Linked DNA regions of Homo sapiens: region 1 is linked to region 2. Evidence: fine-mapped expression QTL. A gene starts in region 2. The other region holds a variant in brackets. All regions are shown on one strand. Distances are between the middles of the regions. Region 1 overlaps SAP18 (Sin3A associated protein 18). Region 2 holds the start of SKA3 (spindle and kinetochore associated complex subunit 3).

What was found. PIP is the estimated chance that this variant, and not a neighbour inherited with it, causes the effect. A credible set is the group of variants that fine-mapping cannot tell apart.
Region 1: its variant is the best candidate, but not a certain one, in a credible set for the expression of SKA3 in fibroblasts (GTEx, PIP 0.70).

Annotation. Positions count from the first base shown.
Region 1 is chr13:21,148,651-21,154,181 of GRCh38, reverse strand. It overlaps SAP18 (Sin3A associated protein 18), which reads right to left. Exons shown (of 4, transcript NM_005870.5): 4 at 5,085-5,531. SKA3 (spindle and kinetochore associated complex subunit 3) reads left to right here. Exons shown (of 9, transcript NM_145061.6): 9 at 1-587. Among named protein-coding and RNA genes, the nearest start is that of SAP18, 11 kb to the right of the region's middle. The variant T/C (reference allele first, on the strand shown) is at 2,821.
Region 2 is chr13:21,173,879-21,178,878 of GRCh38, reverse strand. It overlaps SKA3 (spindle and kinetochore associated complex subunit 3), which reads left to right and starts at 2,327. Exons shown (of 9, transcript NM_145061.6): 1 at 2,327-2,504. The coding sequence starts at 2,402. It overlaps MRPL57 (mitochondrial ribosomal protein L57), which reads right to left and starts at 2,221. Exons shown (of 2, transcript NM_024026.5): 1 at 2,162-2,221; 2 at 1-1,967. The coding sequence starts at 1,962. The coding sequence ends at 1,654. RefSeq lists enhancers at 1,752-2,071, 2,087-2,809, 3,532-4,254.

The sequences.
Region 1 (5,531 bases), 25 kb after region 2:
TGTGGAGAACCATTAAAAATTTGAGAAGAAACAACAAGTATTATGTCAACTTACTTCAAAGGCGTAGTTTTGGGAATTTGATGCAGTAAAGATTACCCTGTTTTATGATTGTTCCTTGAAAGTCAAATGGGGGACCTGTCCATTGTGCTCTATTAATCTTGTCAGAAAACTGTCACCAAAACAAAACTTGAGTTTGTCCTTGTTCTAGGAGTTACTGGGTAGTTGTAAGTATTATTTTTATTAAATATAATGTAAAATAAAATGTTAAGATACTTAGTTTTGTTTTTCAAAGTAAAGCTGTAGTCAGCCTTATGTATGCCATTGACTCTGAAATGTATACCAGCCTTTCACTGTGTACCGTGTGTATATAAATCCACAGAACCGGATGAGCTGCTTAGGGAGGGAATATATTCAAAGTGTACCAAGGACCAAATCCTGGAGTTCTCCCAACTTTAGAGGATGGAAAGGGGCAGAGTAATCTAGCAAAGGAGACTGAGGCCAGTGAAGTAGGAAGAAAGTATTTCAAGGAGAGTGATGATTCTGTGAATATTGCTGAGAATTCAAATAAAAAGAGGACTGAGAACTGACTGTTGGGTTTGGCAAAGTCGATGTTATTGACAACATTGATTAATTTTGATGGAGTGCTGGTACTAGAAGTCTGTAGTGGATGGAAGAGAAAACAGCTGAGGAGGTAAAACAGTGGCTTTAGACAGCTCTTGAGGAGTTTTGCTAAAGAAGGGAGGCGAGAGAAGGTGTAGTAGCTAGAAGAGGTTATGTAGTGAAGAGGTTTTTTAAAGATGAGTGTATTAGTCTGTTCTCACGCTGCTAATAAAGACATACCCAAGACTGGGTAATTTATAAAGGAAAGAGGTTTAATGGACTCACAGTTCCACATGGCTGGGGAGGCCTCACAATCATGGCAGAAGGCAGAGGGGGAAGAAAGACACGTCTTACATGGTGGCAGGCAAGAGGGTATGTGCAGGGAAACTCCCCTTTATAAAACCATCAGATCTCGTGAGACTTATTCACTATTATGAGAACAGCATAGGAAAGACCCGCCCCCGTGATTCGGTTACCTCCCACTGCATCCCTCCCACGACGTGGGAATTACAGGGGCTACAATTCAGGTGACATTTGGGTGAGGACACAGCCAAACCACATCGATGGGCAATAAAGACTGTTAAGCATTTCTGATTATCTGCAAGGGAGCACCATTTGTTTAGTGGTGGCCCCTCAGTTTGTCCAAGTCATATTTCCCTAACCCTTACCACCTCCCTCCTGTAATCCTAGTTTCTGTTTCTTAGAACTGATGCTTCCAGCTTGTCAAGCTTCAAATATTGGGATCTTTCAAGTGTGTCTTCCCACGCCTCTTAAAATGAAATCCAAGATCCTTATTTTGGCTTACATGGCCCTACATGATTTGACCCCAGCTTGCTTCTCCGTCCTGCCCCTTGTGCTCCAGCCACACCACCCTCTTCCACTCCTCCGTACTTCCTGCCCCCGGGCCTCACACAGGCTGCTCTCATCCTGGAATACTTTTTCCCACCCACTGTGCTAACACTCCCTCATCCTTAATTGGTGGACACTTGATGTTTTTGTCTGCCCCCTAACTACTGCCCTTAAGAACTTACAGGCCAGCTCCAGGCTCAACCAAGCAACATCACAACTTCTGACCACACTGGTCAAGTCAGGTCAATGAAAGCCCATTCCGGGACTGGGGAAGTACTGGGAAAGAGCAGCACGCTTCTGGAGATAGAGGTACAGCTGGAGCCGTGAAGGGAGGGATGGCCTGTGGAGGAGCCCTCGCAACAGAGTTGAGGTGGTGTTGGAGCTCAAGGATCAGCTGGGCCTGAAGTCAGCCAGCTCTACCATGGACTTTTCTGTTAAATGATGCATAAACTCCTTGCTCTTGAGCCAGCTGGAGTTTTCTGTTACTTCAGACTTTGAGCCCTGGCTAATATGTCTCAGATTAAATATCATTTTATCAAAGACTTTACCTATTTTCCTGGTTTAAAAGAGATCTTTCCCCCTTAGTTCTTTCTCAGCACCTTATTCTCGTCCTTCATAGTATTTGGTAGAATTTAATTCTATTTAATAAAATATTTGGTTATACATTTATTTAATATTTGTCTCCCCCACTGGACCACAAAAGTTCAGTGAGGGCAAGGACCTTGTTTGCTTACTTTGTCCATTACCCAAGCACCTAGCAGTTTAAAAGGTTTATTGTGTGAATTAGTGATTACATCGAAGAGTTGAGATCTTACGATGCCAGGGATGGTTCTAAATGCTATACATTTATTAACATGTGTAATTAACTCTTTGAGGTAGGTACCTAATTTTTCAAATGGGGAAATTGAGGCTTTAATGATTAACTTTCCATGTCCGATTTCCCATCCCAAGTCTTGTTTGTTGCCAAGCCCTACGGAGGCTCCGTCTTTTAACATCTTTCTACCACTACCCAGATTCTCACCTAGATTATTACAATTCTTTAGAATTATCTGATACTCCTCTTTATCTGGAACTCCTGCCAAAGGTCAGTAGGTGAGTGCTTTACTGATTGTGAGCTCATCGTTTCCTCTTTTGTTCATGCTGTGCACTTTATTGGAGTGTAGATCCTACTCCACTTTTAGGAGTTGAACAGGCTTAAATGCCATCTGTAGAAAACCTTTCATTATCCTACCACAGTTTCAGTAGCACTTCTTTCTTGTGACATTTTTCTGTCCACCTTTTATCAATATTTGCACCTTTTCCTCCTTACTAGACTGTAAGATTTTGAGGAAGGATCTGCATCTGTGTCAAATCTTTGTATTGCCAGGTTCA[T/C]AGCATCTGGTACATAAAATAGGCACTCATCTAAAATTTTCAAGGATTTTTGAATATCCCTCAGAAGGTTCACTTCATTCTTTGTTTTGTTCTGTTTTGTTTTGTTTTTTGAGCCTCCCTGTGTTGCCCAGGCTGGAGTGCAATAGTGAGATCTTGGCTCACTGCAACCTCTGCCTCCCAGGTTCAAGCGATTCTCCTGCCTCAGCCTCCTGAGTAGCTGGGATTACAGGTGCGTGCCACCACATCTGGCTAGTTTTTGTATTTTTAGTAGAGATGGGGTTTCACCATGTTGGTCAGGCTGGTCTCGAACTCCTGACCTTGTGATCTGCCCACCTTGGCCTCCTCAAGTGCTGGGATTACAGGTGTGAGCCACCGCGCCCAGCCCACTTCATTCTTAAATTGCTCTAACTTCATCAAATTCCGTTTCCTTTTTTTTTTTTTTTTTTTTTTTTGAGACAGTGTCTCGCTGTCGCCCAGGCTAGAGTGCAGTGGTGCAATCTCTGCTCACTGCAACTTCTGCCTCCCAGGTTCAAGCAATTCTTCCACCTCAGCCTCCCGAGTAGCTGGGATTACAGGCATGTGCCACCATGCCTGGCTAATTTTTGTATTTTTAGTAGAGATGGGGTTTCACCGTGTTGCCCAGGCTGGTTTTGAACTCCTCAGGTCAGCTGCCAACCTCAGCCTCCCAAAGTGCTGAGATTACATGTGTGAGCCACTGCACCCGGCCAAATCCTGGTTAAATTTTCTCATGAGTTAGTTGTAACTGGGTTGACATGGTACCATGGGTAGAGCAGGAAATTCTAAACAGCTGAAGGCACAAATTGAAGAGGCTAGAAATACCTTCTTTCTCTTTAAAATAGCTTACCTTTACAGAATATTCACTGCCCACCAGGCTCTCCCCTAATTTCACTGACTCCTCCCCAAGTTTTATGAGGTAGGGATATCATTACACCTTCCTATAATAGTCTGCATTAACATTCCCAGGCTAAGGACTTTTTTGCTTATTGCAACTACTCTTTAGTATTAAAATTACTTTTATGTTTAGCTTATTTCCCCTAAGGATTTCTTAAGGGGGAGAATCCGTGATTTTGTCTTCACAGAATAGTTGCCTAGTCATGATTAATCCTTTCTAACAGAATAAACATAACTTCCTTCAAGCTTGTGCCATTGCAGACTCCAGGAAATTAGTTATTTGCAAAAGCAACCTATATTTAAGTAATAGAAGACAAACCAGAACAGGCAGACATCTGGCTGCTCTTAACACATTCAAAGTGGAAACTATGACCATGTCATATTTTTTTTTTGAGAGGCATTTTGAGTTTAAAAACTGAAGAGGTCTACTTTAGATAACCAGGCAAAAATTGCTACTTGTAGGGAATAACATCACTACAAGAATAGTGTGTCAGTGTAGTGTGGGTGGATGCCAGACTATAAGAAACTGAGTATGAAAGAACATTATTTCTGGAAATGTTTCAACTAATCCTCTATTTTTGGCTACCTAGGTCCAATGCCCCATTTTTGAGCTGTTAAAGTAGCCCCTCAATCTGGGCCTCATTGTCACCTATAAATAGCAACTATAGTCACTGTATCTCAGTTGTGGTTACATGAGGTAATGCTGGTAAAGTTGTTCCTCAGCACAGTATCAATGTTCCTTACTTAGGGGGTCATGTCTGGATAAACTCATCATGAGTTGAAAATATCCTAAGTCAGAAGTGCCCTTTCTACTTATAAGATGTTCAGTTGGCAGCTGGTTTATTGGGATGTAGCCCCATAATAAGCTGAGGACCGTAGTGAATGGCTTATCGCTTATGCGCCACTGCAAAGCTGAAAAATCTAAAGTTGAACTATCATAACTTGGGAACCATCTGTGTTTGGCACAAGTAAACACTTAAATCATAGTTACAAACTTGATTTAGAGTGTTGCCTTCTATTTCACAAAAACAAGTCTGAAATGTGTTTAATTGAACAAGAAAGAGGTGCATCAAGTTCAGCTCCTTATTATGTTCAACTTTAGAGAATTTTAAACCTAGCCTAATAATGTTTCTTTCTACATTCACACCTGCCCCTCACATGCATACAACCGATACCTAAAACATTACCTGAGTCAATGATCAGCTGGGCATAACCGTCCCAGTTTTTGTACACCGTGAAAAACTAAAAAGACATTATAGGCAATATCATGTACTGTAACACATATTCCAAAGGGAAAACGTCAATTCCAAAATACCTAGGAGCAAATGAGGCAACCAGGGCAGACACTAAAGCACTGAGCAAGATGCTGTCATGATGACTACTTATTTATTTCTATTTTATATGCGGGGAAACAGCTCAGTTATTACTCAAAGCCACACTTACCAAAGCCAGAGGTAAACTAGTACAAGTCTTTTGATTCTTAGCATTATATTCAATAAATTCACTAGGTATTCTCTAACTGTACTTTTGATGGGATATTGAAATCTTTAAAGGAGAAATTCCATGTTGGAACCAAGCAAAGGGTGGAATTTGACAAAGCAGCCCAACCACTTTGGCTTACAAAGTCCTTTATTTAGTTCCTACCCTCTTCATCTGCATAGTAAATCATAGGGTTCCCCCCCACCCCCACCACGAATAGCAGTTAATCATGGCTATTCTCCAAAAAGCTAGGTGCAAATTAACTTTATGGCTCCAGTCTATCTAATCTGAATGAATAAACAACCTAAAGGTTTGGGGTA
Region 2 (5,000 bases):
CTCCTTCCTCAGCCTTCCCAGTAGCTAGGATTACAGGCATGCATGACCAAGCCTGGCTAAATTTTTTTTGCTGATTTTTATATTTTTAGTAGAGATGGGGTTTCACCATATTGGCCAGGCTGGTCTCGAACTCCTGACCTTGTGATCCGCCCACCTTGGCCTCCCAAAGTGCTGGGATTACAGGCGTAAGCCACCACGCCCGGCTAATTTTTGTATTTTTAGTAGAGATGGGGTTTCGCCATGTTGGCCAGGCTGGTCTGGAACTCCTGATCTCAGGTGATCCTTCTGCCTAAGCCTCCCAAAGTGATGGGATTACAGAAGTGAGCCACCGTGTGGGCCTCAGCCATACAACTTTGACAAAGTTCTTTGTGTGTCTTCCCAGTCAATAGTGGTTTCTCCTTTATTCCTGTTCCCACAGACGCAATTCTGATTTTTTTCCCCACCTAAATTTTCTTTTTCTGTCGCCCAGGCTAGAGTGCAGTGACACAATCTCGACTTACTGCAGCCTCCACCTCCTGGGTGCAAGCGATTCTCCTGCCTCAGCCTCCTGAGTAGCTGGGATTACAGGCCTCACCACTGCACCCGGCTAATTTTATGTATTTTCAGTGGAGACAGGGTTTCACCATGTTGGTTGGGCTGGTCTTGAACTCCTGGCCTCAAGTGATCTGCCCGCCTCAGCCTCCCAAAGTGCTGGGATTACAGGCGTGAGCCATCCCGCCTGGCCATATATTATTGTTATTTTAGATAGGGTCTCGCTATGTTGCCCAAGCTGGACTCAAGCAATATTCCTGAATAGCTGGGACTACATGCAAGCACCACAGCACCCTGCCAAAATAGCTAAAAAATACACCTTCCTGTAACAGCTCTGATAAATATCTTTTACTTCGTTTATTTTTCTTTTTTGAGATGCAGTCTCCCAGGCTGGAGTGCAGCGGCATGCTCTCGGCTCACTGCAACCTCCGCTTCATTGCAACCTCTGCCTCTGAGGTTCAGGCGATCCTCCCACCTCAGCGTCCCAAGTAGCTGGGATTGCAAGCCTGCACCAACATACCCAGCTAATTTTTTTTGTATTAGTAGAGACGGGTTTTATCACCTTGGCCAAGCTGGTCTTGAACTCCTGACCTCAAGTGATCCGCCCGCCTTGGACTCCTAAAGTGTTGGGATTACAGGCGTGAGCCACCGCACCCGGCCTCTTTTACTTCGCTTAAATGTCCAATTTTAGTAGTAAAATCCCGGAAAATGTTTTTAGGAGTATGTTTAACTGAAAAGCTCATATTTTCTTTCATTTTTGGGCAATTCTTAAGGTAAGCAAACTAATGTTGCATGATAAAGCCCCCATCAAGTATCTCATACTTAAGCAAAGACCTCAAATCATTGTGGCTTTATTGCAGCTTTCCTTCAAAATATCATCTGTGACTGAGGAAATCCCTATCTTCCTATCAGACTAATGAAACCACAGGACAGCAATTAGACTTTTAAGTATTGGGGGTTTAGAGCTCTAGATATTCGATATGCAGACTACTCATGTTTGTTTGTTTTAATAAAGACTGGTCCAAAGGCTCATTTTCACACAAGCTACAGTTTTTCAGTTCCAGGACCAGGTAAAGATGGTCAGCTCCGTGATCCATAAAATCCAAGGGTGACGACTCAGGATTAGGACCATTTCTTGGTGACATTGAGATGGTCGAGCTGGTCCGCAATGAATCTATGCGGGGGGAACTTGGAAGTGGCGGCCGCCTTTATGGCCTCGAAGGCCTCCCTCCTGCGCACCGCGGCGTGGCCGCGCTCCTGCTCCCGGGTCATGTAGGGCATGCTCAGCCAGTAATGGTTCTCCGCCTCGATCTCCAGGCGGCGGATCATGTTCTGCTTGGCGCGCAACGACACGAACCGCGGCCGCCGGTGCTTCCCGATCCACTGACGGCCGGGAATGCGGCCGCGCCAGAGGAGCGCAGTCAGGAACATGGTGCCTGCGGAAGAGAGGGACGGGCTTTGCGGAGGCGAACTGGCGCGGCCGGACCTGGAGAGAGCAGCGGGCGCGCGCTCCAGCTCACGCCTACGGGAGTTCCCGCACCGCCTCCCCTCCAGAGAAGCGGGGAGCCCAGGTAAGGCCAGCAGGCGAAGAAGGAGCTCCCTAGAGAACCGAATTCGCACAGCTACTCACCTGCCGCGCTGCTCAAGACTCTGCGTCTCCGCGGCCGCCAGCAGACGCCGTGGCGTAAGCGCACCCGTCTCGCGGGGTCTCCTGGGGCCTCGGCGAGAGACTTCGGCTCTCGCGAGAGAGGACTGCGCCTGCGCAGAGCCGAGGACGCGTCCGGCGCCGAGATTCAAACTAGTGGCGGGAGGCTGTGAGCTGAGCGGTGGGGTCTGCGTACGCCTGGAGTCCTTCCCCGCTGTGCTCAGCATGGACCCTATCCGGAGCTTCTGCGGGAAGCTGCGGTCTCTGGCCAGCACGCTGGACTGCGAGACGGCCCGGCTGCAGCGAGCGCTGGACGGAGAGGAAAGCGGTGCGTGAGGCGGGCGGCCAGGGCACGGTGCGTGGGGTGCGCCGCGGGCGGAGGGGCGTGGCGAGTGGACGGTATGTCCCACGGGAACCGCCAGGCACTGACGGCGTGGACGGCTGCCACCGAGGCGCAGGGCGGGTGCTGCGCGTCTCACTGCTCGGCGTTTGGCGTTAGCGTAGCTCCCGGGCCTGTTTATGGTTTATTCCTAGGAACCCTTGTCGCGTGTCCGTTTTAGACCCATGTACAACCCCACGGCTCTCTTGAGATAATGAAAGTAGCACTATTACGTTATAAACAGAGACAGCAGCACTTAAGAATAAGAACCTAAATTAACAGATTGAGCTCATAATACATATACTAATTTATACGTGATATGCTTTCGTCACATACAATATGTGTGCTTGTCAGTAAAATACCATGTAAACCTAAACAGTTTCTCTTAGAATCAAGCTATTTAACGTTCTTTACACAATACTTTACACATATAGTGACTTTTTTCTCACTCACGTGGTCCACAGTTGCAGTAAACCTCTGTGTTTTTCCCGCTAAACCATGTTGCCAACACAAACACTAGTACTCAACAGTGCTGGGGTTTAAAAAAATATGTGTATATAAATAAAGCAAAATTCACCATTCCCCTTTTTATTAGAGATTTTTTAAATTGTTGAAAAAGTAGTTCAGATTTTGGAATTATTTCATAAATGTCATAATTGTAATGTGCTTTAAAATATTACACCCTGCAGACTACTTTTACTTTAATTATATAATGAATGATCTCCAGTCACTTGAAAATGTCTATTTCTGCCCGGCGCGGTGGCTCACGCCTGTAATCCTAGCACTTTGGGAGGCTGAGGCGGGCGGATCACAAGGTCAGGAGATCGAGACCATTCTGGCTAACACGGTGAAACCCCGTCTCTACTAAAAATACAAAAAATTAGCCGGGCGTGGTGGCGGGCGCCGGTAGTCCCAGCTACTCGGGAGGCTGAGGTAGGAGAATGGCGTGAACCCGGGAGGCGGAACTTGCAGTGAGCCGAGATCCGCCACTGCACTCCAGCCTCGGCGACAGAGCAAGAGTCCGTCTCAAAAAGAAAAAAAGATTTGGCCGTGCACGGTGGCACACGCCTGTAATCCCAGCATTTTGGGAGGCCGAGGTGGGTGGATCGCCCGAGGTCAGGAGTTCAAGACCAGCCTGGCCAACGTGGTGAAACCTCGTCTCTACTAAAAATACAAAACAATTAGCTGGGCATAGTAGTGGGCGCCTGTAATCCCAGCTACTCGGAGGCTGAGGTGGGAGAATCGCTTGAACCCTGGAAGCGGAGGTTGCAGTGACCCGAGATCGCGCCACTGCACTCCAGCCTGAGCGATCTTAGACTCCATCTAAGAAAGAAAAAACTATCTTCAGATGGTCATCAGGAATGTGAAAAGACATCAATTTCATTAGTCATCAAGGAAATGCAAATTTCATTAGTCATCAAGGAAATGCAAATTAAATCTCAATGTAGTACAGTTGCATACCCAGCAGGATAGCTAAAACGAAAAAGAGAAAATTACCAAGTGTTTGGAAAGATGTGGAACAAATGCGCTTTTTGTTGTTGTTGTTGTTGTTGTTGGAGCAGTACGCACTTTTTTTTTCTTTTTTTAAAATTATTATACTTTTAAGTTCTAGGGTACATGTGCACAACGTGCAGGTTTCTTACATATGTATACATGCACCATGTTGGTGTGCTGTACCCATTATCTCGTCATTTACATTAGGTATATCTCCTAATGCTATCCCTCCCCCCTTCCCTCACCCCATGACAGGCCCAAGTGTGTGATGTTCCCCTTCCTGTGTCCAAGTGTTCTCATTGTTCAATTCCCACCTATGAGTGAGAACATGCGGTGTTTGGTTTTTTGTCCTTGCAATAGTTTGCTGAGAATGATGGTTTCCAGATTCATCCATGTCCCTACATAGGACATGAACTTATCCTTTTTTATGGCTGCACATGGTGTATATGTGTCACATTTTCTTAATCCAGTCTATCATTGATGGACATTTGGGTTGGTTCCAAGTCTTTGCTATTGTGAATAGTGCGGCAATAAACATAAGTGTGCATGTGTCTTTATAGCAGCATGATTTATAATCCTTTGGGTATATACCCAGTGATGGGATGGCTGGGTCAAATGGTATTTTTAGTTCTAGATCCTTGAGGAATTGCCACACTGTCTTCCACAATGGTTGAACTAGTTTACAGTCCTACCAACAGTGTAAAAGTGTTCCTATTTCTCCACATCCTCTCCAGCACCTGTTTTTTCCTGACTTTTTAATGATTGCCATTCTAACTGGTGTGAGATGGTATCTCATTGTGGTTTTGATTTGCATTTCTCTGATGGCCAGTGATGATGAGCAGGAACAAATGCACTTCTTATGCACTGCTGGTGGGAGTGTGAACTGTAAAAATCATGTTGGAAAACTAGCAGTATTTACTGAAGTTGAGCATATGCATAACATATAATCCA